2 separate regions of the Homo sapiens genome follow, and region 1 is linked to region 2. Evidence: fine-mapped expression QTL. A gene starts in region 2. The other region holds a variant in brackets. All regions are shown on one strand. Distances are between the middles of the regions. Region 1 has its middle 120 kb from the start of KCNJ2. Region 2 holds the start of KCNJ2 (potassium inwardly rectifying channel subfamily J member 2).

The links. PIP is the estimated chance that this variant, and not a neighbour inherited with it, causes the effect.
Region 1: its variant is the best candidate, but not a certain one, in a credible set for the expression of KCNJ2 in whole blood (TOPMed, PIP 0.59).

What each region holds. Positions count from the first base shown.
Region 1 is chr17:70,285,983-70,290,379 of GRCh38, reverse strand. No RefSeq gene overlaps it. Among named protein-coding and RNA genes, the nearest start is that of KCNJ2, 120 kb to the right of the region's middle. The variant G/A (reference allele first, on the strand shown) is at 1,650.
Region 2 is chr17:70,167,759-70,172,155 of GRCh38, reverse strand. It overlaps KCNJ2 (potassium inwardly rectifying channel subfamily J member 2), which reads right to left and starts at 2,624. Exons shown (of 2, transcript NM_000891.3): 1 at 2,455-2,624. It overlaps KCNJ2-AS1 (KCNJ2 antisense RNA 1), which reads left to right and starts at 2,754. Exons shown (of 1, transcript NR_036534.1): 1 at 2,754-4,397. RefSeq lists a silencer at 2,569-3,028.

The DNA.
Region 1 (4,397 bases), 120 kb before region 2:
TGCACAGCCACTGATCTTGGTGCAGAACTGTCTGAATCACACTCTGAAGGGAGAGTCACAAAAAATAACTGAAGAAACAATGTTCTGCCCAGGCCAATTGGGTAAATTACCTTTGTGCTTTTCCATGACTTGCTCTTGCCAGATGGAATACTTGGCCCTGAAGACAGTGGCATTAGAGCAGATTTTGGAGCAGTGGGGTTTTTAAAAATGATTTACTTTTTCCTTCCACAGACAGTTACTCTGCCACAGAAGGCTTCTCTGAAGGATGAGCCCAGAGTCTTTTCCATCATATTTTGCCATTGTAAAAGTCTATCTGCTGTAGTTTCTCTATTTGCTCTGTGTATCCAAGAGAATATGGAAGAAATTTTACACTGAAGATCAAATTTTGGCACTTCCCATGTATAAACTTGAGGACTTCAGAGATGGCTCTGTGACTCTGATGAGTTGAAATAGTTCCTTTCCTTCCACGCCTGTTCCTATTATGAAATTCTATCTTTTACAACTAATGTCAATAGGGAAAAACTCAACTAGAAAATAGTGAATATTTATAGTTGCCTTCTTTCCCTACACTTGCAAGCAACCTTTGATTGTGTTTGTATAAATGCTTAGTACTTTACTATTAACCTTCCCAAATAGACTAAGACCTAATTAGAAGTCCCCTATTAACACCAAAAGAGGAATTATGGTAAGAAAAATACTTCCGTTAAAACTCAGCCATGTTAGCAATGTATGCAAGGTAGCAGCTGCCCAATTTCTGCGAAGGAAAACCTGTCTTTGGAAAAGAATCTTAACTTTTCTTTTATAAATTATCATGCACTATAAATGCAAATCTCTAAAAATTCCCTAAGACATTGTGGATTTTTAGTTTCATTTTATAGATAAGTAAATTGAGAATTAGAGAAATAAAGCAACTTACCCAAAAGCACTCCAGTAGTTTGCAGGAAAGACAGTAGATTTATCACAGGGTTCTTTACTTGAGAGTTCTGCATTCTAGCATAGCATATCCTTTCCATATTAATCACATGTAGGATACAGGAGTAAATGTTATTTTGGTGGGCCAGAAAAATGATAGTGATACATTCTTTGATGTCATTAGCAGAGTAAAATATACAGAATGATATGCCTGGCATGGTGCACTTCTACAGGGGGATATGTAGTGGAGAAAATAACAATGATAACTGCAGGATATGATTCCAATGCATGAAACTCAGCCAGAATTGGAGCCCATCAGAGCAAAATGGAACACAAGCAATCATCTAATTACATTGAACAGATTTGGCAAGAGAGGACAAGAATGAACATGTCAGTTAATTATGAATAATTATTTAACTTCTATCTGTCACAACTGTGAGAGTTACAAATAGCCTGACAATATGGGATCTTTGAAAGAGTATAAATGTATTAATACTTTTCCATATTGATCTGTTGTATATTTTGGGTAGCTGAAGTTAGATTGTTTTAAAAATTAGATGACTTTATTGGAAAATATGAAAGTGTGTGTGTGTGCACTGTCTCGCACTAGCCAACCAAAATAAAAACTGCAGTGAGTAGTAGCATAGCAGAGTTTTTGATAGTCATGACCCAACTCTGTACTTTTTGATAAGTCACTTTTCTTCGTTGGTGGTAAGTTGCTTCATAAGCATGGTGAC[G/A]CAATGGCATTACACCTAAATTTCCTTATTTGTAAACTGGGAGTAACAGGAACAAAATGATTATGAGAAATACATGAGAGATAAAGCACTTAGTACAGTCCTTGTGACATAGGTCAAGCTAATATTCACTATTATTATTTTTGTTATAAATTTGATGAGCTCATTGAGCCAGATATCCTTCAAGGTACTTTTAAACACCCAACAATCTTTGTTTTCCATCTTGTGGTCCCTTGGTCCATTTTTTAAAAAATCTCTGTATATTTCCCCTACCTTGTTATATGAGGAGAGCCGTATATCTCATTTGTCATTAATATCCCTCCCTAAGGAACAATATATGCTTTGTATTCATTTGCAAAACATATTAAAATAGTGATCTCCTTTTAATCAGTGAGTCATAAAAACATGGAAGATGAGTGGAAATGAGATAGAATAATCCAAAAGTATAAGAATCATCACTTACACAGCCCCATCAGGTTTGGGCCAGATATCGTTCCCGTGATTTATAAACAATGGCCTCCCTTTTAGATTTTTAGCTTCTTGTTCACCTTTTGCTACTGATATTATCTGTGTATTTATTCAACAAATGTATTTAAAATAAATGTTATTGTGCATCTTTAAGGTATACAATATTATGTTGTGGGATACATTAAGATTGTAAAAATGTTACTATAGTGGAGCAAGTTAACATGTTCATCGTCTCACATAGTTTCCCATTTCTTTGTTGTTTTTGTGGCAAGAGCAGCAAAAATCTATTCATTAGTCATGAATCCAAAAATCCAGTACAATTTTATTACTGTAGTCTTCATACTGTGCATTAGGTCTTCAGACTTGTTCTTCCCACATATCCGCCATTTTGTATCCCCTTCCCTGCATCTCCTTGTTTCCTACTAATTGTACCTGCTTGCTCTGCAACAGGCACCATCCTTGACACTTAGATATGCAGTAAGAAAGACAGACACAATTCCTGCTGTCATAGAACTTAGAGTTTACAGAGATGAGAGACTCTCCTGATGTATCCGTAAATGTGCTGAGAGTGAGCACCAGAGAGTGCTATGTAAACGTATTTCTGGGAAGGCAGAGAGAACCAAACTTCTATTTTTCTATGGAAATAGAAGAAATGCAGCTCTGGAAAAATAATATTTAAGCTGAGTGAGAGGTGAAGGATGTATAGGACTTAGTTGAAGAAAGAAAGTATTGGGGTCAGAATACTTCAAAGAGAGAAAACCAAGAACGAAGGCCCTGAGGCAGCCCAGAGTGAGGTGAGTGTGATGAACTGAAAAATGCCCATTATGACAGCGGAACAGGTAAAAGGAATGTGATTAATATCTTAGTATATAAACCTTTATTCCAATTTCTAAGAATTTATTATTAGATTGCTTAAAGTGAAATAACTAAATTGATGCATGTTCCAAAAGTTTCCTAATATGGCAAAAGTACTTCTTAGAAAGTTTATACCAATTTTTTATTTCTATAAACTGTATATATGATGATCTTTCTCACCTTATCCTTAGAAATAGTAAGTATTCCTTTTTTTTCTTTTTTCTTTTTCTTTTTTTTTTTTTTTGAGACAGAGTCTCTCTCTGTTGCCCAGGCTGGAGTGTAGTGGCATGATCTCGGCTCACTGCAACCTCTGCCTCCTGGGTTCAAGTGATTCTCCTGCCTCAGCCTTCCTGAGTAGCTGGGATTACAGGCACGTGCCACCACACCTGGCTAACTTTTGTACTTTTAGTGGAGACAGGGTTTCCCCACATTGGCCAGGCTGGTCTTGAACTCCTAATCTCAAGTGATCCACCTGCCTTGACCTCCCAAAGTGCTGGGGTTACAGGTGTGAGCCACCGTGCCTGGCCAGTGTTCTATTTTTTAAAAAGATGAACTGGTTTAACATGCTGTATTAGTCTGTTCTCACGCTGCTAATAAAGACATACCTGAGACTGGGTAATTTATTAAGGAAAGGGGTTTAATGGACTCACAGTACCACATGGCTGAAGAGACTTCACAATCAAGGTGGAAGGCAAGGAGGAGCAAGCCACATCTTACATGGATGGTGGCAGGCAAAGAGAGAATGACAGCCAAGCAAAAGGGGTTTTCCCTTATAAAACCATCAGCTCTTGTGACACCACGAGAACAGTATGGGGGAAACTGCCCCCAAGATTCAGTGATCTCCCACCAGGTCCCTCCCACAACATGTGGGAATTATGGGAGCTACAATTCAAGACGAGATTTGGGTGGGGACACAGCGAAACCATATCACATGCTAACCATTATAGTGAAAAAGTAGCAATATCTTTTTAGATTTAACACAAAAGCTGCTTACTTCCTCTAAAGTTTTTTTCTGATTACTCATCTAAAATAGCTTCTATATGGCATACTTCCCCATGATTCAGATATTCATTTTATACTACATTATATTGCAATTTTAAATGCTTTTTTTGTTTTCTTAATATTACTCAATGTACTTTTTTTTTCAGTTAAATTCCCTGCTTTGGGAAACAGGAGGGTGATGGTTCCCCATGAACAAAAGTCTATAGAATTTTTGTGGTTGTTGTAATATTCACAGATTTAAAAATTTCAAAGGACAAAATTAAATTCTTATTTCGACCCATCATTGTCAAGCACAGGTTGTCTTTGTGGCAAATAAGTATATAACAAATAATAAATTCCCTTAGGGTCTGCTCCAAAGACAACCTTAAACTGCCTCTAATAAGATCAAAATGTTCTTAAGTAGGGATGATTGTATGAGTGAGTCTC
Region 2 (4,397 bases):
TAATATTTCATGGTAAAAATTGCTTTTACTGTTAACCTGCCCACATGCCTGAGCGACTTTAAGCAAGCAGAAAACTTCCTTGCCCGGTCCTCTCACTAGCAATTACCAATTCGTGAGCAGCTGAGAAAAGCTATCATTAAAAAAACAGGGCTTACATGCAACTTTATTTCAAGCATATATTCAAAATAATGTTTGAGATGCAATCAATGAGGAGTAGATGAGAACACTAAGTGATACAAATCCAGAGAATTGAAATTTGATTTGATGAACAATGTGTAAATCTCCCTTCCAGCCAAAATATTTAAGGGTCTAGATGTAAATTTCATGGACACAAATAATCATTTTTATCCAGGCCATAACCCATGATGTAGAAAGTATTTTTGGGAAATTGAGAGGTTACATGTGGTGCTGTTCATGTTAAGACTATTTATAGGCTGAGCCAAAATTAAGCATAAGCAATGGAAAAAAATAGTTCAGCGTTTTAAACTTAGGTAGATGTTAAAGGAGAAAGAGCTATGGATAAATGTAAGGTCAAGGAGATCACATGGTACAAATGGGGGATCTAAATTGCTTTGACTATATAGGTAATACTTCCAATATGGCTTATAAATAACTAAAAAAAAAAATCAAATGAGAGTAAATGTGTCCTGTAATATGGTCATGGTGTGCAATAAATAAGAAAGTTTCTAAGGATAGGAAATAAAGATAGCAAAAGAAAACGTACTGGGCTGAGAGAGAGGTCTGCTAATGAGTGTTTAGAGCAGCTATTCCCCAGCTGACGCCATATAGAACAGCCTGAGTGTGCTCTGGGCACATGTTGCTATGTGAGCACAACTGCTAGGAAAGCAGCCTCTTAGAAGCTCAATAAACATGAGGGAGGAGGAGGGGGAAGTGGGGAGGGGAGGGGGATACCCATCTATCTACGTGTGAGCCCCCTGTCTAACATTTATACTCAACGACACTTGGCTTGTAGCACTGCTCAGCATTTGCATACGCTGAAAAACAGACATGTTTGGTAAATAAAAATATACACTTAAAAAAATCTGAAACACTTAATCTGTGCAGGTAGCTGTTTTCAATCTTTCAGGCTACGCAAAAGTCATACAAGGACGCTACAGCTAACCAGAGATTCTACAACTCAGGAATCCAAAGGATGTAGAAAGACTGTGTTCTTTTATTTTTTTTAAAAGCAAAATTCACATGAGTTTAGATCAAATATTTCTTATGGAGACCAAGAACATTAAAAAATAAAGTGTCATTAAAATATGAGAGAGGAGGAAGCTAAGTAAAATGGCCTTGACCTTATCCTCACCCTTTCCACCATGCTTCAATTAACATCTCTTACCCCTTCTGAGCACCAGGATTTTTCCAGATAATGGCAAATAGAAATGAAACATTTGGAAGTGAGCAGGAAAACGCTAACAAGTGTACAGATAATGTACAGCAGACACACAACATTGGTTGGCGAGAGGAAATCTGGCAGCCTATTGATTATTAATGTGAAAAGAAAACAAATGATAAAACGCAATATGGTTTCTTTGCATATCCGAGGTTTTCAAATAACACCTTATTTCCTAACAGGTAAAATCTGAATTTATGAAAATCGTCGGAATTCACAGCCTTTTATCCTAGTGATCATCCTATGATATCCTTACCCAGACACAGACATTAAACTGCCCATTCCCTATCCCTATTTTTTTTCCAATTGTCATGATGAATCCACGCTATGATGCAATCTTTTTGCAGAATCAAGTCGTTTTGACTATTTTGCTTTCCTAAAACCACACTGTCTTCAAGCCAGGTATTAATACCATTATTACTGAAAATAACAAATTGGTTAGGGGAGAGTGATATGTAATGTGAAAGTTTTGCGATCCTCAGGCTCAAATCCAACTCGGGCTCCCGCTCTTCTTTCAGGAAGGCAACTTTGAGACACTCACTCTGTTTGAAACTCACAGCTATACTTGAAGCAATGACGAAAAAAAAAAAAAGCCAAGGATCAAGAATAGTGCTGAGTCCCAAGCTTTGCCAAGGTTTAAGACCAGGGCTCAAGACGCACCCCCAAACCCGCAACCACGTTTTCTTTCTTTTTTTCCCCACTTAGAGTGAGAACCGAACACAGACGCTCTCGCCCTTGCCTCCAAACCCAGTATCTCGCTACAGCTGGTGCATTGGAAGTTATGAGCACAAACAGATGCTGCAGAGAAATCTGTTTCTATTGCTCAACTGTTCCAAGCATGTCTCAGTATTTTTAGCTCTGGGGATGTTCTGGTGCGCACACAAACTATATAGGCATGATCTGGGACTCCGGAGTGTGGGTGAGCGCTACAGCAGTGTGACAGCTGGGCACCTCTGGAGCAGCGGGGCAGGGTAGGGTAGGGGACGGCGGCCAGAGTCCATTCCCCAGGACACACCGGCAGCGAGCGAAAAGGAAGAAAACACAGCAGCCCTTACCTGTTGCTGGCGCAGGAGCATGGGGACATGGAGTGGAAGTGGGGGGTACAGAGGCATGTAAGATCCAGTGGTTTGTAAAAAGCGAGTGAGCCAAAGCAAACCAGAATTCCCAAGACCCAGCCCGCCGGCGCCGGGAAGGCTGCGCGCTGGCCAGGGCTCCAGTGCGCTCTGCAATATCCTGGGCTCTTTTGAGGCGGTCCGTGCGACACCGGCTCTCCTGGCCCCGCCCCCGGCCGCTGCCGGCCAATCGCAGCGCGCCTGGCCGCGCGGCCGGCCCCGGGAACCGCGGCGGGGAGGGGAGGATGCTGCGAGGCGTTGCCAGCGGAGGGAACCTGCCGCCGCCTCGTCCCCCTCCACCCTCGGAGCCCGGCCGGGGAGTCGGGCCCGGGCCGGGGAGGAGGAAGTTGCGGCCCAGCTGGGACAGCAGCAGGTGGGAAGCTCCGCGCCCGGCTGTTGCGGCTGCCTGATTGCAGCCTGGCCTTGGGCAAAGCTTCCTACTCCGTCTGGAGCCCCACACACTTCCCGGTTCCCCCGCTCTTGGGCCGCTTGCCCTGCGTGCTCCTCGAGGGGCCTGCGAGGTGCCAGCGCCGGGTAGAGACCTTTGCCGCAGGGGCAGGATTGTTCGTCGGTCCCGGCGCGTCTCCCTCTCCACTCCCTCTCTGCCGGAGCCCCTCGGCCCTTCGAAGCCCCCCGCGGAGGCTGCAGCGCCCGGAGAAGCCACTGAGTCAATGGGGCGAGGGACTGGGGCGGGCGCGCAGAGCCCCCAGGATTGAGACGCGCGCAAGTGCGGCCACTGCAGCGCCGCTTGGCTGTTTGTTCTCCCGACTGTTCGCGAATTACTTACAAGGCGCCTAGGCTTCTCCGAAGGGTGGACGGCTCGTTCCCTCTCGCCTTGTCCGCCCTCAGTCTCTCCACCACCGCCCGGCACGCTTTGCTGATCTAAAATCAGAACAATTAGAGAGTAATGATTTTTTTTGGAATAGCAACTCCTACAGACACTCAGATCTGCCCTCGCTTCAGCGCCTCCCAGCCCTCCTTCCCAGCAGCCAGGCGAGAGCGCGCAGACCCCTAAAAAGCAACTTCAGTGTTAACCGGGTCTGGATCCTGGAACTTTATAAACTAATCCGTGTGTGTGTGTGTGTGTGTGTGTGTAAACCGAAGAGTAAGTGCCTATTATTTCTGAGTACTTCGGTGTCCTAACGAAGCTTTGCTCCTAAAGGACAGGATATATTTTAGGAGTCTTTCTTTCCACTGAGTTTTTTAAATGTTTATTTTCTCGAGCGATCAAATGTGTCTTTTGTGCAGTTTATTTAAACCTCGTAAGGCCTCCTTGAGTCGCTGAACTAATTCAGCAAACTAGCTGGTATTGTGGACGGCGCAGTCGGGGTGGATTTTTGTGTGTAGGAGAGGTGAAACTGACAATTCAAGGAAAGGTTCTGTGCGAGTCCCCACCTCCCATCCTCATATCCACACGTGGCCCCTAGGAGGTGCTGGTGAAATATGCTTGCTTAGGTTTCGCAGATCCGCACTTACTCCTGCCTTAACAAGTGTGCCTTTTTTCTTAGCACTGAGCAAGGTACTTAAATTAAAAGGGTGTGCAAGAGATGATGCACTCGGTGTGGCTGCTCTGATAGCCAAATGGCGATGTGGTCCCAGTTAATGTGTTGAGATTATACTGTTCACCAAGCCCTGTTACGAACTCTGTTGCCATGCACGTGGGAATAATGCCTGCCCCAAGGGAGGTCTTCTTTAACATCTATTTAGTCATGTGTTATTTATAAACAGCTTGAATTAATACTGTAAAATAGACGGATGTCTAAGAATCTAGGCTGTAGCCTAAAGCTAAATGAACCTGAGGGTAGACAAGTTCACTCTGTATTAACCAAAGGATAATGAATGAGTTCACCGCTCAGTTCAATAAGCTTCTTCTGAAATATGCTTCC